Homo sapiens: one gene and its partners. The main gene of each other region encodes a partner of the protein of the gene in region 2 in a complex. Each region holds a gene or a part of one and is shown on either strand. Other genes may lie near its edges. The genes, in order: ORC2, ORC5 and ORC4. A codon is read from its position in the direction of its gene.

Evidence for each region.
Region 1: the proteins of ORC5 (region 2) and ORC2 are in contact, whole or in part, in a cryo-EM structure (PDB 7JPO), measured with the Homo sapiens proteins. Residues at the interface, in NP_002544.1 of Homo sapiens: Asp324, Lys325, Phe328, Leu329, Leu359, Asp360, Arg361, Ala364, Tyr367, Ser368, Ala378, Asn379, Phe381, Ser382, Gln383, Thr385, Ser386, Thr389, Asp400, Gln401, Leu402, Asp403, Tyr407; in NP_006181.1 of Homo sapiens: Val240 (codon at 3,241), Glu241 (codon at 3,238), Tyr243 (codon at 3,232), Phe244 (codon at 3,229), Glu245 (codon at 3,226), Ser248 (codon at 3,217), Asp396, Gln398, Arg401, Gly402, Glu403, His426, Asn428, Ala429, Pro430, Leu431, Met432, Trp433, Asp434, His435, Gln438, Trp445.
Region 3: the proteins of ORC5 (region 2) and ORC4 are in contact, whole or in part, in a cryo-EM structure (PDB 7JPO), measured with the Homo sapiens proteins. Residues at the interface, in NP_002544.1 of Homo sapiens: Ile17, Ser20, Leu21, Phe22, Gly23, Glu24, His26, His27, Phe28, Ser29, Phe30, Pro31, Tyr36, Gly37, His38, Thr39, Thr98, Phe99, Asn100, Val103, Arg104, Arg131, Glu134, Asn136, Pro139, Gly140, Arg143, Gln145, Glu146, Leu147; in NP_001177808.1 of Homo sapiens: Ser18, Gln21, Arg22, Arg25, Glu26, Cys29, Arg30, Gln31, Arg69, Thr74, Asn100, Leu102, Leu103, Gln104, Ile105, Ile109, Glu113, Arg116, Asp162, Arg277, Met281, Met284, Leu285, Asn288, Met311, Asp312, Ser313, Lys314, Asn316, Ile317.

The regions. Positions count from the first base shown.
Region 1 is NC_000002.12:200,930,725-200,941,057, forward strand, and holds part of ORC2 (origin recognition complex subunit 2), read right to left. Parts: intron 7,243-10,333; coding exon 7,182-7,242; intron 5,169-7,181; coding exon 4,975-5,168; intron 3,251-4,974; coding exon 3,152-3,250; intron 725-3,151; coding exon 615-724; intron 1-614. UniProt on the Homo sapiens protein: Component of the origin recognition complex (ORC) that binds origins of replication. DNA-binding is ATP-dependent. The specific DNA sequences that define origins of replication have not been identified yet.
Region 2 is NC_000007.14:104,127,662-104,137,994, forward strand, and holds part of ORC5 (origin recognition complex subunit 5), read right to left. Parts: intron 9,233-10,333; coding exon 9,120-9,232; intron 1-9,119. UniProt on the Homo sapiens protein: Component of the origin recognition complex (ORC) that binds origins of replication. DNA-binding is ATP-dependent. The specific DNA sequences that define origins of replication have not been identified yet.
Region 3 is NC_000002.12:148,016,169-148,026,812, forward strand, and holds the start of ORC4 (origin recognition complex subunit 4), read right to left. Parts: upstream 4,570-10,644; 5' UTR 4,465-4,569; exon of another isoform or gene 4,440-4,464; intron 1-4,439. UniProt on the Homo sapiens protein: Component of the origin recognition complex (ORC) that binds origins of replication. DNA-binding is ATP-dependent. The specific DNA sequences that define origins of replication have not been identified yet.

The DNA of each region.
Region 1 (10,333 bases), on a different chromosome or scaffold from region 2:
ACTGCAAGGATAAAAGTAATTATCATAAAAAGAAAGTATTATGTTTTGATTTCAATCATTCTTCTAGGTGTTTTAATGGAAATTTAAAATTTAATCTGAGGTGTGTGAAAATAATAACAGTGAAAAAATATTCTAGGAAATAATGTTAAAATAGTAAAATAATGCTTATAGAACAAATCTGTTCATAAAATTCTGAAAGTCTGTAGTACACATACATAAGATTAAAGTAAATATTATCCTTTCATTTAAAGAACTATGCTGTGGAAAACTTTATAATTTTTTTTTCTAATTGTTATATTTATTAATCTTGACAAAGGAAATATTCAAGTTTTTTAAACCAATAACATAATTCTAAGAAATGCTATTTATCTTATCAATGGCTGTCAAGTCTGATAAACACAAATTTCTTAAAAACTGTAGAATTTCTGGGAAGAGTCATACAATAAAGTGACATTTCTATATCTGAGTCATAATGTCTATTTTTACATTTATTTTTATATATGACTAAATATCTGAAACTCACTGTAAAAAGAAAAATGTTAACTTACTTTAACATAAAGATTCATGTAAATATTATTCTTTATTTTACAAGGGTTTGTAATGATAATACTTACTGTAATTGCAGCATCCATTTATGAAATAATTTTTCATACTGTTGATTTAGTTGTTTAAGTTCGGCAGAAAAGGAAGGGGAAACCTTGCTCAATAAGTTACGCAAAGTTTGCTTTAAAAAAAAGGAGGAGGGGAAAAAAGTCATTCTCAAAGCACAGACAGCAAATCAATCCAAACAATTTCCTTAGAAGTAGAGCTTAGAAGAAGCCAATCCAATTGGAATATTACTTTAATCTGGTTTGGCAATGAGTATATCAACCGATAAACAAAATTCTTAAAAAATAATTTTTTTGTTTTCTTAAAATTGTTAACATTCTTTTTAGTAATAACAGTAAAGAATTTGGTAAGTTTTGTCCAGAACCACTTAAATGATTATAAACTCCAAGAATAGGCTTTACTTTCTCAGAAAACATTAAAGGTTCTTTATAATTTACTTACTATTATCATTAGTAAAATAAACCTATATCACTGCTCCTCTTCCAAAAGCTGTTTCTAACAAATCCTTTATCTTTGGTAAGTATTGCAAATTTTTAAAAACAATAATATAAATAAACTGAGGAAAGTGCATTGCCCTGTACCCCAAACTTGGAAATTCATGCTGATGAATCAGAGATCATTTTTTGAAATGAAAACTCTAGCAAAAAGCTACACATGGGTCTTCACTTTGGCACTACCATGTTTTCATGATTCCACCACCTTTCAAGTAAAATATTATTTAAATACTGAAGATTAGAGTTGCGATAAATATTCCAGGTACTCTGGCTTGTACTGTGTTTATTTAGTCACAGTTAAAGCAAACAGAACTACCTTTAAGTAAAATTGTTAAGTAGGTAGTTAAAAAAAAACAACTCTTATCTCTTCTGAGTTCAGAGCCCTGAAAAAGCAGAGAAAGCACTAATATCTTTTCCAGCAGTCATTTACACTAGATTATCTGAGCATATTCACACTTGAGTGTGAACACTAGAATGTTATCTCATGTATGTACTTTCATTTCAAACTTTTTTTTTTTTTTTTTTTTTTTGAGACAGAGTCTTGCTCTGTCACCCAGCCTGGAGTGTGGTGGCACAATCTCAGCTCACTGCAAACTCCACCTCCCAGGTTCAAGCGATTCTCCTGCCTCAGCCTCCTGAGTAGCTGGGAGTACAGGCGCGTGCCACCACGCCTGGCTAATTTTTGTAGTTTTAGTAGAGATGGGGTTTCACCATGTTGGGCAGGCCGCTCTCAAACTCCTGACCTCGTGATCCTCCCGCCTTGGCCTCCCAAAGTGCTGGTATTACAGGTGTGAGCCTCCATGCCCAGCCTCATTTCAAACTTTAATTAATATTCATGGAAAACTGCACTTTCGACCCCAATATCCAGCTGTACTAGAATGAAGCAGAACTGGCAATCTAGTTTTGAGCCTGGGCTGTAAGAGATTGTGTGTTTTCCCACTTTTCCTCTTATGCCTCTGCCACTGTCATGAGGATAACATGCCTCAGCTAGCCTGCTGGTCCAACGAGGAAAAGAAACATGGAGCAAATCCTAGATCAGCCAACTTCTGACTGACTTGCAGACATGAAAAATGCTTATTGTCACATGCTACTGAAGATTGTATTGGTTAGCTATGCTATGTTTACGCCCAATGAAAGGCTTTCGTCTCCCTCACTGACAGGTGTTTCTTTCATCCTCCTAGAGATCTTTTTGCCTCTAAGTCTGATGAAGTCCTATTGTGAGTCTAGACTCATGTGTCCTTCTCCCATATTGCTTATATTCTCTGATCCGAGTCTCAATACCAATGAGCCAGGACTTAGATTATCAATTGCAATTATTACTGACAAAGATTTTCTCACTCAGATGGTTCTGTCTCCTCTCACAGAGATGTAAAACCCCAGCAAGTATAACTGTATGGTATTTTTTTTTTTTTTTTTTTTGTAAAATGAGCTACTGGAACCATGGTACATAGTAATCTTGTTACCTTACCACACTGGGCAGGTTTTCCATAATATCCTCAAGCAGAATATCCTCTACTTTGTGCAAAGTTTTTAACTGAGAGAAAGTCAGGTTGCAGTTGCTGTTTTATGACCAGTGTGAGATTTAGTGAATACATATAGGTTAAATGAATAACAGAGATAAATGGTAAATGGATATCAAGGAACTATGACCCTGATGATTATCATAGATCCTGAAGAAATAATAAACGAGTAAGAGGGGAAAAATGCATAATTACAGTCTGTCTAATCCAGTAAATTATTTATTTATTTATTTAAATTTTTAGTAACAACGAGGTCTCCCTATATTGCCCAGGCTGGTCTCAAACTCCTGTGTTCACATAATCCTCCTCCCTTGGCCTCCCAAGGTGCTGAGATTACAGGTATGAGCCAGGTGTGCCCGGCCTATTTACTATTTATATAATAAAAGAAGTAATAATCACATTAACTTGTGTTTCATTTGATCAGGACAATAATTCTACTTGTGTATACTTTTCAAATCTGTTGCTTACGTAGCATATTTTTCAGGACAGAGTAAAAAAAATTTAGAAGTAACATTCCTTGTAACATACCTGATCCAGTTTAGCTCTCTTTAGCTTCTGCAGTGTTCTATCAGAGGTTAAAACTTTTGAACTGCTGTGAGCTTCAAAATATTCTTCTACTAAGTCACTCTGAAAGTGAACAGAGTAGTCAGTCCTTAGTAGCTTCAAATATCTGTCTCATATCAAAATTAGACAGTAATATTAATGTAAAATAGGACACGTGAAATTCTTTACTTGGTAGTATTTTCTTTTTAAAGCAACAGTACCAGTTAAGGACCAAGCATATTTAATTTCAGTAATAAAACTGAGTAATTACTAGGATCATATAAGTTAAAGAAATGACTAGGTGAAGTAGTAGTCTGTTCCTAAAAATGATTCCTAAGTTACAATATGTAATTTCCATTTAGACTAAAAAAAGAGAGATGGTTTTATATATCAAGATCTTTGTTTCTCCTCAAGTAAGTCTTTTTTTTTTCCTTTCTTTATTGAGGAAGGGTCTCACTCTGTCACCCAGGCTGCAGTGTAGTGGTGCAAATACAGCTCACTGTACCCCCAACCTCCTGGGCACAAGGGATCCTCCTACCTCAGCCTTCCAAGTAGCTGGGACTACAGGCATGCACCACTACACCTGACTAATTTTTTAAATTGTTTTTTTTTTTTTTTTGCAGAGACAGGGTCTTATTATGTTATCCAGGCTGGTTTCAAACTCCTGGCCTCAAGCAATCCTCCCACCTTGCCCTCCCAAAGTGTTGGGATAACAGGCATGAGCCACCATGCCTGGCTTCAAATAGTCTTAGCAAATCCTTTAATATTAGTATAGCTGAAGTACTGTGAAAATGAGGAAATCAACTGCAAGGTAACAAAAGAAAAAAAAGAAACCCACAAACAAATAAAAAAACTGGCCTACTATTCCAGTCAAGCGGAATTTTCTTCTCACACTATTTGTTCTTCTGATTTTGGGCAGGACTAAACTCTAGGGTGGTAAGGAAGGGACAGAAAGCTATTTAAGCAGTAGGCTCCTCAATTGCTCTGAACCTTTAGACAGAGCACCAGGATAATTAGCCTTTTCTAAAACCAAGGTGCCTGCAATGTTCTTCCAAATGACTCAACATGGGTCCCTAGCCACATCATTCATTACACTGACTTGAATACATTGACAATGGTACAAAAACAAGATACACTGAGAACTCATGCCTCCAATTGTCCAATCAATATTTACTTAAAAGTTCATTTTTTATTTTTGTTATTTTTTATTCTAATCCCATAGCTTATTTAAAAATTTATTTATTTATTTTTGAGACGGAGTTTCGTTCTTATTGCCCAGGCTAGTACAATGGCATGATCTCGGCTCACTACAGCCTCTGCCTCCTGGGTTCCAGCAATTCTCCTGCTTCAGCCTCCCGCGTAGCTGGGATTACAGGCACACATCACCACACCTGGCTAATTTTTGTGTTTTTAGTAGAGACAGGGTTTCACCATGTTGGCCAGGCTGGTCTCGAACTCCTGACCTCAGGTGATCCACCCGCCTTGGCCTCCCAAAGTGCTGGGATTACAGGCATGAGCCACTGTGCCCAGCCTAAAAAGTTCATTTTTATACAGTGGAATTGAGATGTCACTTTTAGCATATACTATTTAGCATATACTATGGTATTAATTCATGAATATGTAGACAGGCCAGAAAAGAAAGCCCAGAAGTAGAAACAAATATATGTGGGAATTTATGTGGAAGGCTGAGAAAATATAGAAAAGTGAAGAAAAAATATTATTTTGAGAGATGTGGATCTCTTAGGGTAGCCTATCTTTGAAATATTACACAATTTTTCTTTAAGGTTAAAGTCTCTCTCTTCACTTACTGTTTTATCTCTTTTCATTCTCTTAGAAGGTGTTTCTTTGCCAACAGGAGCTGAAACTACTCTATTCTGAGCTTGAATCTTTTGGCTGAATATGACTGCATTAGTGTCCTCTTCATGTTCCTGTGCAACCCCTTCATCATCCTCTGAGTTGGAAGCAGAATATTCGCTTTCACTGTCAGAATGAGACCTTGGAACTGTGGGGGGAAAAATAGCAATTTGGACAATTTCATGGTTTGACAAGAGAGGCATTGTGGGGTAAAGCAAAGAGTGGGGGCTCTGTAGTAAGAGTCTGAATTCTGGTTTTGTCATTACCTGCTCATGATTTCACCAGAGCTAATTAACAAATTCTCTCAGCACCAGTTTATTTATCAAATTAATAGTACATAGTTTAATAAACCATTAGGAAGATTACATTGAAATGTATATAAAGCCACTAATAATTCCTGACACACAGGAACTGTGATAGAAATTGTTAATCATACCTAACACCGTTCTCCTTCCCTCTTCCTTGCTAACAGAACTCCAATTTTGCAAAATATGGCAATATGCCCCATCCTAGGGGATGAATCATGGTAACTGCCTTTTTCCTCTTCAAGGTACCTGCTTTCCCAGCCTCTGCTCCAACTATGGTTGACTATGTGACCCCTTGACCAGTGAATTGAGGGAAAATAGCTGGCAGCTTCTGAGAAGGATTTTCCTCAATTACGGAAGAAAAGCCCCTATTTATACCCATCGTTTAAAGCTATGAAAGCCATTTTGCAATATGAAGTATCAAACCTAAAGATGAAAAATGCTGGTGGCAGAGTAAAAGATAGGAAGAATCTGGGTCCTTAATGATACTGTTAAGTCACATCAACCATGGAACTTGCATCTCCATACTTGTTTTGATGTGAGATACTTAAATGTCTATGGCTTAAACTACCATTATAGAATTTTCTGTTGCTGCCTACTGAAAACGTCATACTAACTAATATAGCACTCAATAAATGGTACTTATGATTATAATTATTACTAATACATACACATACACCATCCCAGAGTTGATTCAAGAATTGTCTTTTTAAACAAACCACAACCTCATCCCTACAACTCCCCAGAAATAATATAGCTAGTTTTACATTTATCAAATAAGAATAAAGCCAGTTTCACACTAAACAGGCATAAAACTGTTTTTAAAAGCTAACTTCCAAAATATGAGTGAAAAAACTTAAACAAATCAGCATATTTATTCTGAACAACAGATATACTGCAGAGGATTATCCCAAGTCAGCATGTAACAAATGTAGATATTAAAAAAAAAAAGAAAAAAAAAGGCTTGATTTTGTGGGCATATATAGCTCAGCAGATTCAGGTGTGCATTGACTGCTGCTCGTGGTACATGCACAGTTAGAAGTGGTGGCAGGTACCAGAAAGTATCTCTACCTTCTTTACATGTATGCTTCCTCCATGTAGGTATATATGTTTTGTGGTGATTAAGAAGGAAGAGGGAAGTTCACCTTCTCTCTAAAAAACAACCCATATTTGGGATGAGGAGAAAACATAAGACATGGGATATAGTTGACATGAAATAACAATCACAACTATACAGATCTTTTACTGCTTTAATATACCAAATCATTTAGCATTACCAATTTTATGGTGATTAAAAATACAGTTTTAACAACTCTATGAAATCCATACCTTGAAAAGAAAGGGCTATGAAGTATGAAGCCCTGATGTTAGGCTGAATTTAACAATGTTGACTAATACTATTATTGTCAAGGGTCAACATTATGAAAGGTGTTGACATCTTCCTGATATATAAAGGTCCAGTCATTTGCCTCAAAGTTCAATATTCAAAAATCTGAAACGATTTTTAATTTCCTAGAAGGCAGAAGCCATGTCTGTTTACTTGACTTTGTTTAGCATTCAGTACAACTATGAATATTTAATATTATTTCATTATAAAATTTCCAAATAAATCAATAGAATAATTTCCAAACTGTCTCAAAACAATTAAAAGGCATGTTATTTCATTGGAAAGACCTTTTAGCTGACTTCAATATACACTGACTACAATGTGAAAGACATGGTGCTAAGTGTTGCAACTAAAAGCCAAAGATTCAAAACACCAAGCAGTCTAAGTCTAGAACCTATATACTTAACTATTATTGCCTCTTGTTTAGATGCTACTTTTTATAAAAAGTCATGTAAAAACAAATACGTACCTATTAATCTTTTTCTTAGACTACGAGGTGCTGTTGACAGAAATTCACTTTTGTCATTGTTCTGTTTAGAAATAGAAAAAGCATTAAATAATAACATGGAAATTAATGACTGATCTGAGTGAAAGAGGCTAGAAAAAAAGAAAAATATTTTGCTTTCAATAGACTGCATTAGAACTAGATGAGCTTAGTTCCTAGAACTAGAAGATTATGACAAATGGGTTCAAACCATTCTCCTGCCTCAGACTCCCAAGTAGCTGTGATTATAGGCACGTGCCACCACACCCAGCTAATTTTTGTATTTTTAGCAGAGACAGGGTCTCACCATGTTGGCCAGGCTGGTCTCAAAACTCCTGACCTCAAGTGAACCGCCCACCTTAACCTCCCAAAGTACTGGGATTATGGGTGTGAGCCACAGCGCCCGGCCCAATGGAGTATTTTTTTAAAAGATAGTATTATGTAGCAATCATAAGTATGAAAGGGAACGGGCACCCCTATGTATATGGCAATGGGCCTTTTAATGTGCTAGAAATTTACTGGTGTTAAAGTATTACATTCTTTGAGGAGAGAAGGAGAGATTTACACTTTCTTACTTTCTGTATTTAAAAAATTGTAACTTTTTGTAGGAGTACAAAGTCTGTTTTTTTATAGAATACTTTAATACCATAAATTGTTAGCACATTAAAACATCCACTGTTATATACCTGTAAATTTCTAATAGTACTGATAAAAAAGTTAAAGTACCCTGTGATTTTGTCAACATGACAATATGACAAAAAAATTTAAGTTTATTGTCTTGTGATAGATTGCTGGTGTCATTAAAATCTGATTTGATTTTAAGAATAGTACTCTAGGCCGGGCACAGTGGCTCATGCCTGTGTAATCCCAGCATTTTGGGAGGCCAAGGCGGGCAGATCACCTGAGGTCGGGAGTTTGAGACCAGCCTGACCAACATGGAGAAATCCCGTCTCTACTAAAAATACAAAATTAGCCGGGCGTGCTGGTGCATGCCTGTAATCCCAGCTACTCGAGAGGTTGAGGCAGGACAACTGCTTGAACCTGGGAGGTGGAGGTTGCGGTGAGCCGAGATCACGTTATTGGACTCCAGCCTGGACAACACAATGAAACTCTTCCTCAGGGGGAAAAAAAAAAAAAAAGAATAGTACTCTAATAACTGAGCTAATCCCTTACCAATGGAATTACAGTATGTCTCAAATTTTTTGATCAAGATCCTCAAAAATTTTTACATTTTGTCATCTTGACCCAGTACACGTGTATATATAACTAAAAAAAATTATAAAACAGAAATTTAAAATTCTGTTCTACTTCATTTGTTAAAAATGCAGTTTATGTCCTATTAAACTGATTTCAAGATTGAGTATTGAGATAACTTATATATATCTACACAGCTTAAGTCTGAGAATTCACAACACCTGTGTCAAAATAACCACTGCAGAAAATTCCTGCTCAAAAAGACAAGACTAATAAATAATTTTTTCCTACTTGCTATAGAACATTTCTGCAAACTAATCTCTCTTGACAGTTTGCTCATTTGGGCAAACTGTTCTCCCTATCAGGACAACAGATTACTCCTAGGGCAAACAGCTTATCTTATCAACAGTTTAGTTATCAAGATACACTTTAAGACACGATCTTCACTGTGTCTACCAATCCTAAAATATCATGTCCCTAACTTTGCCCAATCCCAATCAGTTTACCATTTTGAAAAACCTGCTTTAAGCCACTTGAGCCCAGGATCCCCAAGCCCGATACATATTTTCTCTTGAACTTGCTTTTCTAAGACAGTACACTAAGATTCTGTCACAACGATGTTGTCTCTTATTGTGATAGGTAGCTTTGTTTCATCAACAGGTTTTTCTGGTTTTTTGGGAGAGTTGACAATATCTTCTAATGGGTTATAATCTATAACTTGAGAAAGAATAATCTAAATTCTTGATTAGATTATGGCAATGAGTTTTTTTCCTTTTATAGTGATAGAACACACAAGACATAAGAAAAAAGCATTATTAAAGACAAATGAAAGTCTGGCATGTCTAATCCCATACCTAGACTTGTCTAAATAGGACATTCCTGCACAGGCCATAACCATGGCCTTAAATGTCTATACTGACTGTGGAGACAAAAGTTACTCCATCTTGGATGCTAATCCATCACGTTAACTTCTGATTAGCCCCAGTCTCATGAATGCCTCCTGATTCCTACTTTATGTACTGCCTTCTGTGAAAGAACATGTCAACCTTGATATTATCACACAAATTACTGGCTACAATGCATATAGCATTCTTGCCCTCTTGACAATTAAAGAGGGTTGCCTTTAATTATCTTGCTGGAACATGTATACCCTTTCCTTATGGTAGGTAAGCCGTGGGTCTGGGGAGTAACACTGCAGAGAGCTACCTGTCTTGTGGCTGCCCAAGACCATGCTTCTGTCTCTAATAAAATACCCTTTACAGACAAACTAAACTTGTCTGCCTTGTCCTTTGGTTTCTTGGCTCCTTTGGCATTTGGGGGATGCTTTGCATATATGGCCCTTTCATGGAACACTCACCACTTGAAAAGGCATAATGAGAAAATTATACCACAAAAACACAAAGGAGGCCAGGCGTGGTGGCTCACACCTGAAATCCCAGTACTTTGAGAGGCCCAGGTGGATGGATCACTTGAGGTCAGGAGTTCAAGACCGGCCTGGCCAACATGGTGAAGCCTTGCCTCTACTAAAAATACAAAAATTAGCCAGGCGTGGTGGTGCACACCTGTAATCCCAGCTACTCAGGAGGCTGAGGTGTAAGAATCACTTGAACCTGGAAGGTGGAGGTTGCAGTGAGCCGAGACCACGCCACTGCACTCCAGCCTGGGCGACAGAGTAAGACTCCGTCTCAAAAACAAACAAACAAACAAAGAAAAAACCCCACAAAGGAGGAGATAAAAATATAGAGTAATGGATCTAATGCATCTTGGGATCAAACTGCACAACACTGCCCTCTTCCCCCTGCAAAAGAAACAGAACATGATACATAAAAGCAAAACCCCAAACATTTTCAGGCCAGCTACACACAGCAGAAAAAGCACAACAGTTGGGTCTGGGAGGCCTGGCTTCATTTTCTAGCTGTTCTCCTTCCTAGTCAAGTGAACTC
Region 2 (10,333 bases):
AGCCTTTTAAAGATTCACTAATTGCATGCTCTTATTTATTAAACCATCATCAATTAATGTTTTTGTCTATCATTTTGCAATATACTTTCTAAAAAAGTTTCTAAGCAAATGACTGACATATCAAATATTTTTTAAAATGTGGAATGGGAAACTATAGATACTGCTTATGAAAACACATTTAAAAATAGCTAAAAAGAGATGCTATGGCTATTGTGGTACCTAATGTTGGACTGAAGAATAACTTGCTTCATTGTAACAGTGCCTCTGAAGAATACTAAGCCTTTCCAAATGGTATAAAACTGCCAAAACAATACTGCAGAACTAAAAAGTTTAAAAAAAATCTTTTGCATAAAGACGCAAAAAGTATGGTTATTAAATCATAAAGTTATTTTATATGTTTTTCTTTCGTTCAACTCTAGAAACACCCAAATTTATGGGCACCAAAGTACTTTTGACACATGATTCTTTTTGTTTGTTTTGAGATGGAGTCTTGCTCTGTCGCCCAGGCTGGAGTGCAATAGCATGATCTCGGCTCACTGCAACCTCCACCTCCCCGGTTCAAGCAATTCTCCTGCCTCAGCCTCTCAAGTAGCTGAAGGTACAGGCATGTGCCAACACGCCTGGCTAATTTTTGTAGTTTTAGTAGAGATGGAGTTTCATCATGTTGGCCAGGCTGGTCTCGAACTCCTGACCTCAGGTGATCTGCCCGCCTTGGCCTCCCAAAGTGCTAGGATCACAGGCGTGAGCCACCGCGCCCAGCCAACACATGGTTTTTAAAAAATCGTGATACTGATTGAAAAGATCTTATTTAGAGGACCATAGAAAGGAAACGGATATAATAGACTACTTTTTTTTTTAAACTTCATTTTATTATTATTATACCTTAAGTTTTAGGGTACATGTGCACAATGTGCAGGTTAGTTACATATGTATACATGTGCCATGCTGGTGTGCTGCACCCATTAACTCGTCATTTAGCATTAGGTATATCTCCTAATGCTATCCCTCCCCCCTCCCCCCCACCCCACAACAGTCCCCAGAGTGTGATGTTCCCCTTCCTGTGTCCGTGTGTTCTCATTGTTCAGTTCCCACCTATAGACTACTTTTAACCACGGACAGAAAAGGCAAGTGGTATTTGTACATCTCTCCAGGCACATTTCTCCACAATGACTTTGGGTCTTAGGTTATAAACCTAAAGTAATATGGTAAAATGGACTTAATGTTGTGTTGCTAATTTTTTTTTTTTCTGGACTTGGGTGAAAACAAAATTTTTGAAGCAGGTAAGATTAAAACAACTTAAATTCCAAAACTAGGAGAATCCATAAATTACAATACATTATTTGATGAAATATTATACAGCCATACAAAATGATCAATATGAAGATATACCAGCAATATTAAGGGAGAAAGGGAGAAGAAATAATTGCAAGTAAGTTGTGACGGCTGCAGAGAAATGTTTGTCTAATGGACTAGTACTAGAAGAGCACAAATACATGAAAATATTGTGATGTCTGTAGGACTTCTCTATTTTTTGAGAAATCTGTTTGTTACTATAGCATTAGAATAGTTTGTACAATAAATAAATAACAGAACAGACTTAATAGAATGAATGGAGTGACTTAAAAACACTAAGCAACTTAAATGTTCATAAAACTTTCATTATATTCCCTTTCTGTACTTTGTCAGTGGTAAGTATTCATGCAAACTGAATCATAGTAAGAGTTTTAGATTAAAAAAAATCGATCAGGAATTGAATATAAAATCATTCCTTTAAGAAACATTTACTTCCCAAGATGTATCACTATCTCTACCATTCCTCCACCCCCAATATAAATAGGTAACTTGCCAATTGATCTCACATATATTATTTTAAGACATGGCAGAATTTGTTAGAATAATCACAGGGGCAACATAAAAAACTATGCCACACATCCGAAAGATAATTTTGTGCTTTAAAGTACTTGAAGACAAACAATCCTCTTTAAAGAAAGGTATAACTTACAAGAGAATTGTGTAATTTGCATGGATGTTCCCTGGCTTTCCATGGTCACAGATGCATATTATAGTCACGTAAGTATAATTTTAAACTTTGGGATAACTTTCAATATACTATGGGAGATTCTCCCACAGAACATAAATGAATTATTTTCTAAAGTAACCAGCTGGAAAGAAATACAGTAAACACGAATAGTGTGGTGGCAATTTTCCTAGGAGTAATTCTTAAATCAGAATTTAGAATACGTTAATACAACTTAATTATATGGCATATATTTAAGGATTTAATTTTGCCTTTATCCTTTTATTTCATTTTGTTGATTCATTAAAATACTTTTTCTTTCTTTAGGATACTATTTTGTTTCCTTTTACTTTTGTGGGCAGTTTGAGTTTGAGATTTTTTTAATTTTTTTTTTTTCTGACAACTTGCAACCATACAACTTTAAGTTGTAACCTCTATTTATCTTATAGTGTCTTCCCACTGACTGTGGAAGAAAAACAATTGAAAATGTGTAACTACCATTCACATTAAGAACAATCCAAGAACAAAATTTAGTAAGCTTTTCAGTCATCTGTTATCTGCCTTCTCCCATACTCTATCTCCAAATTCTATGTTCCCTTTCTAGAATCAGCTTCCTACAGCTTCTCTGTCCAAACCTTTCCACTGTAGTCTCTATATCCTCTATCTCTTCAAGGAATGGTTATTTTCCCCTTCCAGGCTTAACTGAAACTAGGCTCCCCTCAAAGGACATAGTCTTTTCTTCAGCTCCTTCCAATGAATGTTTAACTCTCTACTGTACCCCCGGACAGTTCTGTCAGGTGGGGCTGGTGTCCTGTGCAAAAAGCTCTGCTACTCTGAGATTAAGACCATTCTGCTCACCATCCCCATCCTCTTTGTCGCCATCCCTTAGTCACTGAGTAATTTAGCATACAGTTCAGTCTTCCTTTCCAACCCAAGACCTGCGTCAGCCTAGTGACTTCACTATATATTTCTCTTTCTTACCTCCAATAACCTTTTCCACTCTCATAATCACACTCAGAAATGCTCTACTTCTAAAGAAATAAATTCAGACATTCTACCTTATGATCCCCAATTTATCCCTTTTTTGCTATCTGGAACATGTTGGGACAATCAGTTCACAAATGGCTTCATTTTTTCCTGATCTACAAACATTAACTGAGTATCTATATGCTAGGCACTGAATTATTAGCCCCCGACTGGCTTTACTTCCTTCCTGCCCGTCCTAGCTTAAGACTCCATGATTCATCAGGTCAAGTGGTTACTTGCTGGAATCCACTGAACTTACCTGGCAAAACCCCAGTACGATGTGATTTCGATTATAATTCTTTGCTGTCCCAGTCTCTAGCACATGGATTGGTGTTGGAGAAGATCACAAGTCTCACAGATTGGTGCCATTGTAAGTAAATTCAAGGTCAAAAACCTCAACACTCCCAACAAACTGCTTTCCTTTCAACAGTTTCTTCCATTCCCCATGGCAGCTATTTCAAATGTTCCAGATTTCTCTAAACTGCTACTATTTCTGCCCTTAGTCTCAATTTTGTCTCCTCCTTCTCGGAGAAAATGGAATTCATCAGATCAGAACTCCCTCAACTTTTTGCCACCAAACCTCCAAATTCAGCTCCATCAGAATCCATCTTTTTCTCTTGTTATAACGCAAGAAGATTCCGCTCTCTCATCTACAGCTCTTGCAACTCAAATTCTAAACCCCATGCTTATATAACGTTTCAGTAATTTTGTGCTTTAAATTAATCTTTCTCCATTTTGTATCATTAACTCTCCTTCTCTATCTGTTCTTTCCTATCAGCATTTAAATATGCTCAAATCTTTAAAAAATAAATAATAACCCTCTCTCAACCACATAACCCCTTCAGCAGTTATAATCCTCTCTCTTGGCCAGACACAGTGGCTGATGCCTGTAAACCTAGCACTTTGGGAGGCCGAGGTGGGTGGATCACCTGAGGTCAGGGGTTTGAGACAAGCCTGGCCAACATGGCAAAACCCCATCTCTACTAAAAATACAAAAATTATTTGGGCGTTGTGGCACACGCCTGTAATCCCAGCTACTCGGGAGGCTGAAGCAGGAGAATCACTTGAACCTTGGAGAAAGAGGCTGCAGTGAGCCGAGATCGTGCCACTGCACTCCAGCCTGGGTGACAGAGTGAGATTCTGTCTCAAAAAAAAAAAAAGAAAAAGAAAAAAGAAAAAAAAATACTCTCTCTCCTTTATAGCAAATAAATAAGTAAATAAATGAATCCTAGAATACAGGCTAATAAGAATAGGATATAGCTATGTTATACTTGTTGCTGTATCTCCCCAAAGCCTACCACAGTGTTTTGTTTATAATGGGCAACACAATAAATGTTAAATAAACGAATGAAAAACATTATCTCTCTTTGCTACATCTACTTTCTCATAAATACTACAATATGACTTCTACTTCATCATACCACTGAAAGTGTTCTGGATAAAGCTACAAATGACTGCTTTATCAGTAAATCAGAGGATTCTGCTTGATTTCTTGGTGACAACTGACTTTTGACCATTACTCCTGTCCCTTACAGTTTCCTAGTTTTCTTGTATATGCAACTTTATATGAACTGTTACATGCACTTAAGCTTACATCATGAGTTATTTTCCCAAGTTACTATCCTTCAAAAGTGTGATTTTCAATAACTCTATAAAAATACATGATGCTATTGATTGACTGCCATTTTAGACATTTAGGTTATATCCTGTGATCCCTATTATCTCATTTGTTCTCTGCCACAGGTGTCTGGAATGAGGCCAGCCTTCCTTTTCTTTGGTAACTATCCTTGGGACTTCCTCTCCCATCAAGCCTTGATTTGGAATGAGACTGTCTCTGAGCTCCCTTCTTGCTGTCCCCAAAAACAAATTCATATGGTTCCCCTTCATCTGAATTTTTACTGCTAATCACTATAGGAAAACATGCAATATTTATTTAGCACATACTAAGTTTAAAGCACTGTGCTAGGTTTGAGGATAAGGCAGTGATAGACATAAACACAGTCTGCTTTGAGCTTAGGAGCTTGTATTCTAGAAAGAAAGATGAACTCTAATTACTCAATTATTTAAGTAAAACTTGTTACATATAATGAAGAACAAAATGGGAACTTCCAAATCGTGTGTGTGTGTGGTATGGGGGGGTGATCATGGTGGTTGTGGTATTTGTGAGAAGGCGTCTTTAAGGAGCAGACATTTAAACTGAAATCTAAAGGTTATGTAGCAGTTAGCTAGGTGAAGGAGAAAAGAAGCTGGAAAATGCTGTATATACAAGCATGGGAAGCAGAATGGTGAATATAAAAAATGGAAAAAAGTGGTTAAAGTGCAGATACCGAGGAAAGAAGGTGTATGTGCTAGATGGGGCTAGGCACAGGTAGGGGCCAGATCATTTGGGCCTTGTTAGTTATTTAAAAGATTCTGTTATTTATCCCAAGAGCTATGGGAAACTACTGAATATTTTTAATGAGCAGGGTGACATTAAATTTTTATAAAATCATTCTGGCTACAGCATGGATAATAAATTATAAGAGGATAAGAGCAGACAGAAGATCAATTAGACTGTTAGAGAAGAGATGATGGTGGCTTGATCTAGAGTGGTAAAAGTATCATGATAACAAGTGAATGAAATTGAGACAAATAAGAGGGGCTTTGTAAGCTCAATAGGACTAATGGTTAAATATTAGGAGTGGGGGAGAGAGAGATGTCAAGAAGGACTCAAATTTCAGGCCTGGGTAACACAGCAGACTGCAGTGCTTATCACTGAAATAAGAAACACTGGAGGAAAGCCAGATATTTCACTTTTTGTTGGTGGGTTGAAGCAGAGGTTAGAATTCCTAAGTTCAGTTTTGGAAATGTATTAATATAGCTGGGAAACAGCAATAAAGGTCAAGAATATTATAAAAAATAGGTCTGGTCTTTAAAAACAGGGGCATTATTAATACACAGATGATTGTTGAAGTCACAGGTGTGGCTCAAGTTGCCTAGGGAAAAAAATGTAATATGAGAAAAGAGCCTAGGGCCAAGCCTAAAGGAACAGTTATATTTAAAGGTCAGATGGTAAAGATAGCCTTTGTTAGTAAAAACAACCAAAGAATAAAGAGGAAAACCAGAATACTGTGGAATCATGTCTAAGAGAAGAGAGTTTTAAGAAAGAGTAGCCAACAGTGTCAGGTGCCACTGAGAGGACAAACAGCCGAGACTAACAAAGGTTCTGGGAAAGTGGAGGAGATGGAATTCAGAGCATAGGTAGAAGAATCTACCTTAGGAAGAGGAACCCCATCCTGCTGAAAAAGGAAAGAAAGAGAAGATGGACACTAACACAGGTAGCTCAATTCTCAGTTGATGGCTTCAACCTTGTTCTGTGAAACAGAGTGAAGACTGAACAGAATGAACTCAGGCGTTAGAATGTGGGGTTTAAACAGAGTCAAGAATTTAGGTGGAGGCTGGGCGCGGTGGCTCACACCTGTAATCCCAGGCCTTTGGGAGGCCGATGCAGGCAGATCAACTTGAGGTCAGGAGTTCAAGACCAGCCTGGCCAACATGGTGAAACTCTGTCTCTGCTAAAAATTAGCCAGGCATGGTGGTGTGTGCCTGTGATCCCAGCCACACAGGAGGCTGAAGCAGGAGAATCGCTTGAACCCGGGAGGCAGAGGTTGCAGTGAGCCAAGATCGCACTACTGTACTCCAGCCTGGGCGACAGAGCAAGACACTCCATCTCAAAAAAAAAAAAAAAAAAAAAAAAAAATTAGGTGGAAAAGAAGTCTGGATACCAGGTGCCCTATTATCTCAATACATGAGGTGGAATGGCTGAAGAGACAAAAATCAGTCTTAAGGAGAATAGGGAAATAGAGCCAGATTGCATGAGTCTCAAGGAAGTCCACATTTTTATAAGAAGTTGGGGGCAGTAACAGTCTGGAAGTGGCAACAAGAAGGATGGCACCGAAATGACCTCCAACCCTGAGGGATTAGGGTTTGAGAAAATACATAGCTACAACTAGAGGTAAGTCCAGGGGAAGCAGCATCCCAAAGAAGGAATCAGGTTTTAGCTAAGGCAATGAGGAAGACTATTAGGAGAATAATAATTCCTAAGGCACATGGGAGGGAGGGAAAGAATGAAAGGTAAAGTCAGCAGAAAAGAAGTACAAAACACAGGGATGAGAGAATGGAAGAGGGCAGGTGTGGGGAGGAGCGGGTGCTTATTCTATGGATATTGCCCATGGGAAGTAGGGAACAGTAAAGAAAACAAAAGAAAGTTACAGAGCCCCCAAGTTCTATGTCAAGATTCCAGGTCTAAAGTTCTTGCTTCCTTCTGAGGTGGTAAATGAAAGTGCATGTCTCTGGATGTGTCTAACATCCATCACTGTGATGCTCTGCACTAAGTAACGTCAAATTAAGTCAGATTCAATGGAGATTCACTATATTAGGAACCCACAAACTTCTGTTTTGCACATGATTATACTGGGGCACAACCTAACATATTCAGAGTAATAAAATCCCTGAAATGAACAGGCTTCACTCCAAATTTATGCCTTGGATAGAGGCTCTTAGATATAAAGTTCCAATATAATTGCTTTTTTAAAGGAAGTAATTGCTTTGTGATTATACTTAACACACTAAAAAATAAGTTTCTGCTCAATTTTCTCTGCGTAAAAGTTTTCCTGGTTTTATTAAAATGAAACACTAAAACCCTTGAATTCATGTTTTACAGCCTATATGCCACAAAAATGTGGTAAATACCTGCATCATATTATCACAGAACTTAAAAACATTTTTTATAGAGACGGGGGTCTCACTACGTTGCCCAGGCTCATCTTGAATTTCTGGCCTCAAGCAATCCTCCCACCTCAGCCACCCAAACTGTTGGGATTACAGGTCTGAGCCACTGCACCTGGCCATTCATTCAATAATTTATTATTTATTTATTTTTCAGAGCATTTTGAATTCAGAAGAGACTTCAGGGAGAAGCTGCCAACCTATGGACTTCAGAACCTCAAGAAGCTGTAAAATTAATCATCAGAGGAGATTTGCAAATCTATACTGATATCAAGCACTGTTTTAGGCTGAACAAAATAATGTCTCATGCCTAAATACTGTTAATTTTGAAATATATGTAAATACTTTCATGACTAATTTTTAAAGGGTGCTAAAATGGAATCTTCATATTGAAAAAGATTAGGAACACACTGTCTATGGATTGCCCTGTTCACTCTGCCAGTCTACACACTCATCACCTCTTCCATTACAGTCCTGACAGATTGTTATCCAGCTGCAACCGTATGATGAAGTCACTTATTCATATAAATGGTTTGAACATTTTCCATAACACTAAGAACACCTCTTTGTAAGGAAACTTGTATTTTTAGACAGCTTTCATTTTGACAAATGTACTTTCTTCCCCAGAACTTCTAACATTCTAGAATTACTCAGAATTAGCTTCATTCATTTTGCACGACAGCCCCTGAAACACTTAAGACAGTTCACATGTCCTTCCTAAGGCTTTTCTCTCACACTCTGTCCTTCAGTCAGGGATGTGACACAATTCCTCATTCTACCACTCTCCTCGTGCCCCTTCAGTATGTATCCATTTGTCTCTCTGAAAACTCTAAACACAGCACAGCACACTAGATTTGATCTGCCTGTGACAACGCACAGTAGAATGATTATGTCCCCTGACCTAGACACTATATTTCTATCAGTGTTACCTAAGTCAGGATTTTTAAAGCCTTGTAGTCAGCTAAAAAATTTAGGACTTAAGCCAGCTCTCTCCCATCTTATTTCAATACAAGAGAGTTTTCTGTAGCCAACTGTCCATTAAATCTTACCTTGCCACTATGGGATCATTTATTCCAGCCTATTAAGGTTTTTCAGAATCTTGATTTTTGTCCTCTAACATATTAGCTATTTCTCCCAGTTTTACATCATTTGTAAATTTGAGAAGGTTCATTCTATCGTACAGCTTATTCATTCTTGGCACTTAAATAGATGATTTTTTCATGTTTAAATGTCATGACTAATGACATCACATTTGGAAAACACTAATTTTTATATTTAGTATATCATTACATAATTCAAGACATTTTACCTTGCAATAGCTCTGATGAAGTCTAGAGACACTGTGCATTTGTATTTTGGTCCATCAAGCTGATCGTCATGGCCAACCAGGGTTAACAGCTGAAGGGTCACTAGAGAGGTAATCTAAAAGAGAACATTTTTATAAGAAACTGTTTTAATAAGATTATGTAATACTTTTGTTTCTGAAACATCTTATAGTCTGATAAAGATACATAACTGAATCACAAAAAACGTCTGCAAAGAAAATGACTACTTTGCAATCTGTAAATACAAATTTGTACATATGTTTTCCAGTCTAACAACCAAGACTAGTTGTCAGAGTCCTAGTTTTGTTTTTTTTTTTTTTCTTAGAGATATGGTCTCGTTCTGTTACCCAGGCTAGAGTGGCATGGCTTGATCACAGTTCACTGGAGTTTCAAATTCTTGGGCTCAAGTGGTCCTCTCAACTCAGTCTTCCCAAGTGGCTGGGACTACAGGCACATTTTTTAAATGTGCCTACAAAAAAAAAAAAAACAATTTTTTATTGTTTTGTAGAGACAGGGTCTCACTGTGTTGTCCAGGCTGGTCCTGAACTCCTCGCTTTGTGATTCTCCTGCCTTGGCCTCCCAAAGGGTCGGTGATACAGGAGGGGGGCAGGGAAGTGCTGGGCAGAGAAGGCCATGGTCCCTGGCTAGTGCTCCACTCCAAGTCTGAGCCCACAGACCTAGGTAAGGGCTGGCATTTCAGTTTTTGTGCCTAAATATTACATTTTCCAAGACCACCCTGGCTACCATGCCCCCATCCTGTGCCTATAAAAACCCCGAGACCCTAGCAGGTAGAGATACAAGTGGCTGGACGTTAAGAGGAATACACTGGCAGAAGAACAAGCAAGCGGCTGGACATCGAGAGCAACATACCGGCAGACACCAGCAGATGCCAGCAGGCCACCTACGGTGGGACAACACAGAGTTTGGCCAAGAGCGGCTAGACTTCAGGGGAAAACCACCTTCCCACTCCATCCTCCTTCGGGCTCCCCAACCATCTGCTGAGAGCTACTTCCACTATTCAATAAAACCTTGCACTCATTTTCCAAGCCCACATTTGATCGGATTTTTCGGTACAGCAAGGCAAGAACTAAGGATACAGAAAGCCCTCTCTCCTTCCAATAAGGCAGAGGGTCTAATTGAGCTAACACAAGCCACCTATAGATGGCAAAACTAAAAGAGCACACTGTAACACGCCCAC
Region 3 (10,644 bases), on a different chromosome or scaffold from region 2:
ACAACGAACCATTTCTCAATCGGACTGTGAGGTGCAACAAAAACTAGATTTTATATGACAAGCAATGACCAGCTCAGTGGCTGGACCGCGAAGAAGCTCCAAAGCACTTCCCAAAGCCAAACTTGCACCAAAAAAGGCCATGGTAACTGTTTGCTGGTCTGCTGCCGGTCTGATCCACTACAGCTTTCTGAATCCTGGAGAAACCATTACATCTGAGAAGTATGCTCAGCAAATCAATGAGATGCACTTAAAACTGTGATGCCTGCAGCCAGCATGGGTCAACAGAAAGGGCCCAATTCTCCACAGTAACACCCAACCGCACACTGCACAACCAACACTTCAAAAGTTGAACGAACTGGGCTACAAAGTTTTGCCTCATCTGCCATATTCACCTGACCTCTCAACTGACTACCACTCCTTCAAGCATCTCTACAACTTTTTTCAGGGAAAATGCTTCCACAACCAGCAGGATGCAGGAAAAAGCTTTCCAAGAGTTTGTGGAATCCTGAAGCATGGATTTTTACATTACAGGAAAAAACAAACTTATTTCTTGTCGGCAAAAATGTGTTGATTGTAATGACCTATTTTAATTAATAAAGATATGTTAGAGCCTCGTTATAATGATTTAAAATTCGCTGTCCCAAACCACAATTTCTTTTGTACCAACCTAATGCATTGACAGCTGATTTCTCAAAATCAATAATGAAAACCAAAAACAGTGAAATGTTATCTTCAAGGTACAAGTAAAACAACCACAAATCTGTAATATCCCCCAAAACATTCTTCAAGATTGAAGGCAAAACAAAAAATTAAGACAAAGCAAAAAAATTAAGAGAACTGACCATCAGAATGTCTGCATTATGAAACTTCTACTGAGTGTGCTAAAGTAAAAGTTAAAAGATTCCAAAAGAAAAGTCAGAGACGCAGGAAGAAATTAAGACATGGTAAACACATAGGAACATCTAGCTCAAAGTACTGTCCAGCAGCAATACAGTAAAAGTGACATAAGTAATTTAAAATTTTCTATTGTTCACACTAAAAGAAAACAAGGTGAAATCAATTATAATTTCAACATGTAATCATAATGAAAAGCTGAGGTATTTTACATTGTTTTCATACTGTCTTTGAAATATGGTGTTTATACAACATTACAATGCAGATGCTAAATTAAAACTGCCATATAAAATACTTGATCTATATTTTTATATAATTTGCAGCTAATGCCGGGTGCAGTGGCTCACGTCTGTGATCCCATCACTTTGGAAGCCCAAGGTGGGTGGATCACTTGAGGTCAGGAGTTTGAGACCAGCCTAGCCAAAATGGTGAAACTTTGCCTCTACTAGAAATAAAAACATTAGCCAGGTGTGGTGGCACATGCTTGTAATCCCAGCTACTAGGGAGGCTGAGGCAGGAGAATCACTTGAACTTGGGAGGCGGAGGTTGCAGTGAGCCAAGATCATGCCACTGGACTCCAGCCTGGGCAACAGAGCGAGACTCCATCTCCAGGGGGGAAAAAATCTCCAAAAATTAAAAAATAATAATTTAATAATTTGCGGTTAAGAAAGGTTTATGTATCCGAGTTGTTCCAAACATACAGGTTTTACAGTAACTGAATCAAGTGTCAGTTTTTAAACTTAATTGAACACTAAATAAAACTAAAAATTCAGTTCCTCAGTCATACTAGCCACATTTCAAGTGCTCAAAAGCCACACGCAGCTAGTAGCTACTGCAATGAATAGCACAAGCATAGAACTTGTTATCTGGAGTTTAAACTACGTATACAATTCAAAGAACAATGACAGCCTATAAGACCTACATGAAGATAAAAGTTGCCATCCCAGAAGAGAGTAATGCTCCAAGCACAGAGAAGATATTGGCCATACTGCTAGAAATCCCTGAGTAAAACAGACAACCCAATTAAAACAAAAAACAAACAAACAAAAAAACCTCCCAAAAAGATTTAAAAAGACAATGCACAAAAGATTTAAGAATTAAAAAGACAATTCTAGAAAGAGGAAATTCAAATAGCCGGTAAGTTTTTGAAAAAGTGCTCAAACTCTTTAGTGTCCTGGGCAGAATAAATTAAAACAACAATAAGATAAAGCCACATTCATCAAGTTGGGAAAAAGGAAAAATAACTCTTGGTGAGACAGTAAAAGTAAAGGGATCTACCATATACTGCTGTCGGGGTATACATTGGTGTATCTACTTTGGAAAAGGCATAACTAGTGAAGTTGAAGATAAACATACGTACTCTACAAAAACCCATGGTAATGTACATTAAGAATACATGTACAAGAACATTCATAATAGCATTGTTCATAACTACTAAAAACGGAACACAATCCAAATGTTTATTAATATTAGACTAAACTGTGGCTCATTTCCATTAAGACTTTTTATACTATACTTATTATACTATAGATTACTACAATCCAATATAAGAACTAGAGCTAAATGTACTAATAGAGTTATATCCCAGCTGCATGAGAGAAAAAGATACATAATGATATGTAATATATAATCCACTTACATACAATTAAGAAACAGGCAAAACGAACCTAAATTGCTTAGGAATGCTGACATAGGTGGTTAAGAAATACTAAGAAAGAAAGCAGTAAATGATTGCCATAAAAATCAGTATAGTGTTAACCACTGAAAAGAATTGAGGAAAGGGATGATCAGGAATAGAATGGAGAGGGGAGCTTCTCAGGTGCCACAGACGTTCTAGTTCTTGACTGTGGCAGCGCTTACATAGAGTTCACACTTTATAGTTTTTCATTATACTATGTATCGATGTTTGTATGCTTAAATACTAAATGTATGGAAAAAGACACAAAATATTTAAAATTGTAGCTAAGGCACATTAACTGCCTTGCTGGTATTTTTTTTTTTCATTACAAAGTGGCAGACAATTGGTTACACTATAAAGACAGACAATTGGTTACACTACAAAGAAAATTTTAAAGCACAGGAGTCTAGTTTTGATTCCATCGGACATGATTACCGTACACAATACAGAAGATACTAAGGGCTAAGCAATGATGCATAAACGGGGTCCACTGCCCAAACTTACAGAAAGCAAAACGTGGAAAATTAGTAACTTTAACTGATAGTGTACACCTAAAGAACCTACACCGGCCGGGCGCGGTGGCTCACGCCTGTAATCCCAGCACTTTGGGAGGCCGAGGCGGGAGGATCATTTGAGGTCAAGAGATCGAGACCAGCCTGACCAACATGGTGAAACCCCGTCCCTACTGAAAACACAAAAAAATTAGCCAGGCGTGGTGGCACATGCCTGTAGTTTCAGCTACTCGGGAGGGTGAGGCAGGAGAACTGCTTGAACCCAGGAGACAGAGGTTGCAGTGAGCCGAGATCGCGCCACTGCACTCGTCTGGGAGACAGAGCGAGACTCCGTCTCAAAACAAAAAACAAACAAAAAGAACCCACCCAACAGAATTAAGTACCAACATAATAAATACGAAGAATTTTAGATTCTTGGTTTTTAAAAAACATACAAAGATGATATTCCTTCAAAATATCTTTACAAAACATATTGAGACTGTGATGCTTTATATTGATTGTATGAAAACAATGAAAAAGAACCAGCACTGTTTCACTATAAAAGCTTTACTAATGTAAATTTATAAATCCTTTCTTAAATATTTTGAGTTAATTCTAATTTTATGATAGAAATTCATTATTTTCAGCAAAAACAGCTGGCATTTGGGAAACCAAAGGCTCAAAAACTAAGAATAGTAACCAAAGAAACTTGACAAAACAGTCCTTTTAAAACTCTCATCTACACTATAAGGGGAAACTTTGATCACGTCCCTTCTCCTTCATCAATCGTAGAACTCAACATTAAGGACTACACAATCCCACATCCCTCTCCGAGAAAAAGCAAAGGCTTTGTGTTGTAGCAACAACGCAAGACATGGAGGGAAGCTCCACTCAAGACTTCCCTGCCTGCTCCTTCCCCAAAGCCACTCCAGAATACCAGGGAGGGTTGAGAGGTAAGGCATGAAGGGCGCAATATCCAATATGAGCAACGCGTGTGATGCATCTGGTCAAAATGCATACAGAGGACTTGTCTCTGTCCCTAGATAGAAGTCCTCCGTCCTGCAGTCATGAGGGTCAATTGCTGAGGCTTCACAGTTCCCTTCTCTCTTACACTCGGACCGTCACGCTCCTCACCTACTACCCCGATGCAGAGGTAGACTCAGGATCCCTGCACTTGTCAAGGATTCCTCGGCAAGCTCACGGGGCGGGAGTGGCCACAAGACGGAGCTCGCCTGGTCCTGGCCTTCCCGGCCTATACAAGCCTGCCCCCTTCCCAATTCCCAATCTCCACAGCCTTCCATCCTCCCACTTTCGATTCACCTTGCGCCACCGACGCCCCTGGCCTTCGTTTGCAGCAAGTTTACCCCCACCATTACCTCTCGCATAAAAGCCTGCATTTACCAGGTCAAAGAGGGGAACCAACGCCTGCAGGAATCGCTTCACCGAATCGCCTGGCCGCGTCCTCTGCTAGACTTCACCTGCCGCTGCGGACCGTACACAACCACTCCCGGCATGCCCCGCGCACGCACTACCTCTCCCACCCCGCCCCTCTCCCGCCCAAACACGTGACCTCCTTTCGTCTCCGTCCACGCCCACTTCCGTTCCTCCACTTTCCCTTAGGAAGGAGGAGGGAGCTGGGGGTGTTAAAAGCGTAGCGACTTCCTCCTCCTCCCCGCCCCCGCTCCTGTACCTCCCGCTACAATGTCTTCCGGGTCGCTAGCGCCTCGACGCCTTCTGGGAAAATAGCTCATTTCCTCCCCTCCCCCTCCTCCTGCCTTCAACCAACCAGCCACCCGTCAGAGAGGGACATGCGCAGTGAGTGCCTCCCGTCTCTTCTACCCGAACCCCCCCTCCCCCCCAAGCAGAGAGACCCCAGCAGCAGCAGCAGCTGATGATGAAGAGAGAGGCAGTGGCAGAGGGGGGGCACCTTTTATTTCTATTTTTAAAGGGACAGGACACTAATTCTACCCCACTTCAACCTTGAATTCAGGGGGGTGGGGGGAAGGCGGCTGAGTTCCTTCCCCCACCCTCCAGCCCTGAGCCCTGAGAGGGGGATTGAGCCTGAGAGAGGAGAAGGAGTTTCTTCTTCTTCGAAAACCCCCATCCACGACTCCTACCCCCTCACCCCTCCAACTCGCCTCCCTCCCTCCACCCTCCTCCTCTTTGGCCGTGAGAGGAGGAGAGAAAGAAACCAAAAGCCTCTTAGCAACACAGACCCTTTGCTGCTGCTGTTGCTGCTGCTGCTGCTGTTGCTGCTGCTGCTGCTACTGCTGCTGCTGCTACTGCTGCTGCTTGGCCCTGGCTGGAGACATCTCACTACACCCAGGAGCAGCCACTTCCCCAGCTCTCCTCCTCCTCCTTCGCCTCCTCCTCCTCCACTCCCCCCCTTTATTACCCTTTGTGTCATCCTCCACAGCTCCAGGGAAGGCACTCAAAAGTGGGGGGCAGGAAAGGTAAGTGTGTCTGTGGGGGCTTCATTGCCTTCCTCTGGCTCTGACTTTCACTCCGGGGCAACAGTAGCACCAAACCACATACGCAGTGGAGCTCCGGGGTGAGGAGGGGGTGGTGCTGGGGGGGGTGAAGGAGGGGTTGGAGTAGGGAGGGGTGTGTGAGGTGGGGTGCCCATCCTGTCAGGGGAGGAAGGGCACTTTTATTTTTATTTGCTGTTGTCAAAAGTGGTTTCTCTCCTCCATCTAACATCTGATTGTGTCTTGCTCCAGTGGGGGAGAATACAAAAACAACCCCCTCCTTCCTCCAATGAGGCGCCAGGGAAAGAGACAGAAAGAGGCACACTTTCTAGATGTCACTTAAAAAAAATTCATTGGAGAGCTCTTTTTCTCCAGGAAAAGCTCCACTGCATTTGTTTCTGAGTGGGAAAATGTCGGGATCTGGATTGTATTGGAACTGCTTATCCATTTGTAGACCTGAGTGTTTTCCCCTTTTTGGTCCTGTATGAGATTTGGATATTGACTTCAGTGTTGGAAGACTTGATTGGTTTTTGCTTTAAGGGTTTCATTTTCCATTTTTTCGTTTTGTCTGACTTCCATGGAAAATTTCAAATTTTTAGTTGGTAGAGGCCTTTGGTTAGGTTTTGACTTGCATTATTGCTTTTTTTTTGGTTAAATGTCTGTTTCATATATCAGTATATAAAGTCCAAAGCTCTAAAATGCTTAAAGTTTAAATGCCACTGCTATTGTCTGTTCCCACATACGTTCCTGATACTTATTTTCCATATGATGAGAATATTAGCTATTTTATAATTAATCTGGGTATATTTGTAATCTTTGTAACTTGTCTGAACAAGTAATCCCCATTGAAAACTTTATGTTGTTCTGGCTGCATGGAAGGCCAAACCTCTCCATCAATAGTTTGCTGGATTGGTACCACTTTCAGTTTTAGCTGAATTATTTATTTACTGTTGTAAATTGAGATGAGTTTTTCATCTCAATTTCTCTTGGGGTTCTGAACCAAATTGCCCACTGTATGTAAAAGTACACAAATTTCTAAAATATGTTTTCATGAGTCAAAGAAATCATGAACTTATAGTTAGTATATTAATTTCAGTTAGCTATAAATTGAAAGGTAAATCCAGATTTAAGTTTATGGAATAACAATATTGATAAAAATCACTTCATTTTTGTATAATGTGTTCTTAGTGCATAGCTTTAAAATTCAGTGCTGTATTTTATTTCACAAATGTTAGAAAGTATGTTTCTGATGTAGGCCTTTTACTAGGGCTTATATTGGAAAGTGTTATTTTGTTTCATATATACATTTCTTTATTCTTTCCTTGAAGATGGATGCACACATGCATATACACACACTCTCTTTCGCTCGCTCTCTCTCCCTCACACCCTTTTTTTTTTTTTTGTAACTGCATTGGTATCTCTGATCCCATAATTTATGTCAGCAAAAAATATTCTTCTGTAAAGCAGCAATTTTGTGATCAGACTGGCAATATGAAAACAGCAATTTGATCAACTAGAAAGGATTGAAGAAATATAAATCTAGAAGGATATTTGGCAAAAATATTATAAAGACATGATAATACTTCTAATTTTTTATTTTCTTGATGGTTAAAGCTAAAACATATATTTTAGTGACAGTGAAGCATTGCATATGTAGAAACTTGTTCTGTAAAATTTTAATTATCAACTGTGTGCAAAAGTAGACATTTACATACCGAAATAAAAAAGCTTTATAGCAGTAAACAATATGATCTTATTTCCCTTCTGTTATAAATTTGAACAATTTTTTACCTTTCTCTGAGATGTAATTAGTGCACTTAAGCAGAAATCTGTGCCAAGTTCAAGTTTTTCTCCCAACATCAATACTGCCATTCCAAGTCCTTGTAAGGTTTCTTGTTCTCACCTTAAAACCTCAGCAACTTTAAAGGTAAGAGAGAGACAGTAGAACTTACTGAAGAAATTAATTTTAGGTAAGGGAATTATGTAGATAATTGGGGTGGTAGTTGCCCAGTAGGCAGCTGAGTAAAAATTTAGTCTTGAGTTTAATGTCTTTCCTTATTTTGTTTCTTTTTTTTTTTTAAACATTTTTTTATCACACCCCTCACCCTCACCCCCATGATCCTTTATGGTTAGAAGATTGCAGACTTTATCTAAGTTGGATAATGATTTATGTTTAGAAAACCTTTTTAAGTATTAAGAACCATTGATACTTTAGGATTGTAATTGTTCAACTGGGTGGTATCTTGGAGGTCACTTTATCCAACTCTACCTATTGCTGAAGTTCTAAGAACTTGAACTTGCCTGAGGTTCCAAGGCCTGGAAGTGACAGAGCAGGGACCAGGGAACTCAGGTCTCCTGATGCTCACTATGCTGCACTACCTCATTTCCTTTGTCAGAAATGAAACTATTATGTACAGTTCTGGGTATACCACTTGAGGGTTTCATATGGGAGCATGTTATTGTAAGAATATTAAGGTAAATGGCTTTAAAGCTATTATTTTGTCTACTTAAATTTAGTAATTTGTTAATTTTTTAAAGTACTAATTGCACTTATTGTAGGTTATTACTATTTTGAAAATAATTTCAGCTTTCTCTAATACTTATTTTCCTCCTGCACTTACAATTAATCAGTAAATATACTTACTGTTGTATTAAGGGCCCATACTTATAAGAATAAATGGAATGCATATTCTCTTATAAATGCTTACTTGTGAGTCTTGCCCTATGAACTGCCTAAAAACAAACATTTTTGTTTTGTTAACACATCCTTCTACTCTTGGCACAATATCTGGTACACAGTAGTTCCTACTGGTAGCTTGTCATAATCCATGTTAGTTTTAGAGTTAGGCATATTTGAATTTCTTTACTTCCATATGTGGAATTCCTTTCCTCTCCTTTTCTTGTCCTCCCTTGCCACAATTTTCACTATCATGAACATTTTTTCTTTATCTCTACTGTGGCTCTCATTTTATCTAATTAACAGCCAAATTAAATACTGTTAACAATATGGTACTCATAGTAACAAGACATATTCCCTTCTTATACAGGAAGCAGTTTGGCAAAAGTGATATATTATGAATAAGCAATAATGATCCAACACATTCCAGTTAAAAATATACTTGTAAAAATTGTTCAGGATGCACTTAAATTTCATTGACCGGTGCAATAGGTTGTTGGAATGATTAGGCCGCTTTTACCAGCTCTATAAAACAAGTGCTACTTAGGTGACATGTTTCCCTGACTTTGTTTTTTTGGTCCTTACCCAGACAATTATCAACTTTCCAGTTTTCTATGGATATGAAGATTTACTCCTAGTCATCAGTGGGACCCCCATGAAGTCAGCCAGAAAGCCTATATCCAACTTATGTACCTTTGCAAACTTGTCTGGATTTTGACTGTATGTGCAAAACAGATTGTACTTAGCGATTCATTAAACATCTTTTGATCATCTGCTGTCTGCCAGGCACTGTGCTAGGCATCTGAAAAACAAAGATGGTCCCTGCAGTTTAATGTGAAGAGCTATCTTAATTGTATTCCACAAGTGTATTGGTCGTATCTTTGTTTTGGTGTTTCTACCTAAATAAATTTTATATTAACTAAATGGATACTGTTAGGTGGAAAAATGCATGTTTAAGAAAGATATTGCTGTTATTTTATTAAAATACAAATATATAAAGAAAAATTTTCCACTTAATACTGTATTCTAGGGATTTATATTCTGTATATAGTTAACACATTTTAGACAATGAAAATAGCCTATGTGGTTGCCTTTGCTGGATTTTTATTGCTAACCGTAATTCTTTTAAGATGACCAACAATGTTCATTAAGTTATCTCATTAAATTTTTCCAAAAAAAAAAAAACACCCCAAACCCTCTAAACTTAAATCTTTTTCTCAAAAGTAACTTTTTTCTTTTTTATCTCATATAACAGATTATCATTCATGATTCATTGGAAGACATTGTACATTTTCATTTTGAGTTTTCAGATATTTTCTACCAAATTTTAGCAAATCTAACAGCATGATTTAATTATTCTGCAGTAATTAGTGTGCACTATTTAGGAGTTTTGGAATTTTTAGTATGTAGTAGAAATATCATTGCAAAATCCTCATAAGAAACTTCCCAATTCTAGTTCTAAGTCAGTTGTAATTTTTAATCTTTATTAAGTGGTATAATCTCTATAGCTTTAGTAAAATGATTTGGAATTTTCTTAGTAGATAGATGTTTCAAAAACAAAGAATCTTATCTCAGTTCCTGTCATGGCTTTCATGTGTAATCGAAAAGTATATTAGAAAAAGTACTGGATTAAATTTGCCTTTCTTAAAGTATACCTTTTACAAAAGTATTGATTTGCAGTTAAAAAGAAGGTGGGGATGCCTCTGCTGGTGCAGTATCTTGTGAAGATAAATAGACTCCTGAGTGGTGAATTCTGATCTCTTTCACGTTCATTCTTAACTTTCTATTTTAGTAATAATCATAGTTACCATTGATTATAAGTACCCAGCACTGTGATAAATTGAATTCACATTACATTTATGACACTTTCTAATTCAAAACACAGTCACAGTAGAGTTTTTATCAATCTGTACACTGGTAAGCGATGGTAAAATTATGGCCCTGATAGCTTCACAGACTAATGGAAAATTTCTGAAAGTTTACAAGTACAGAAAAACAAAGAAAAAAAACCCAGTCTTTTATAAGGAATGTAGATACAGACCATTGTACAATTTAAAATATACATAATGTCAGTCTTTTCTTTGTATGGCAAAAATGACATTTGGGAACTGCTCATGGTGACTCAACGCTTGTAATGTAATCCCAGCTACTCGGAGGCTGAGGCGGGAGAATTATTTGAGCCCCAGATTTTGAGGCTGCAGCGAACTATGCAATCCAGCCTAGGCCACAGAGCGGGACCTTGTCTCTAAAAATAAAAAATAAGGTCAGGTGGAATAGCTCAAGCCTGTAATTCCAACAACTGGGAGGTGAGGTAGGAGGATTTATCACTTGAGGCTAGTAGTTCAGGGTCAGCCTGTGCAATGTAGTGAGATCTGATCCCTACAAAATCAAAATAGTAGCTGAGCTTGGTGTGGTGCACACTGTAGTCCCAGCTAC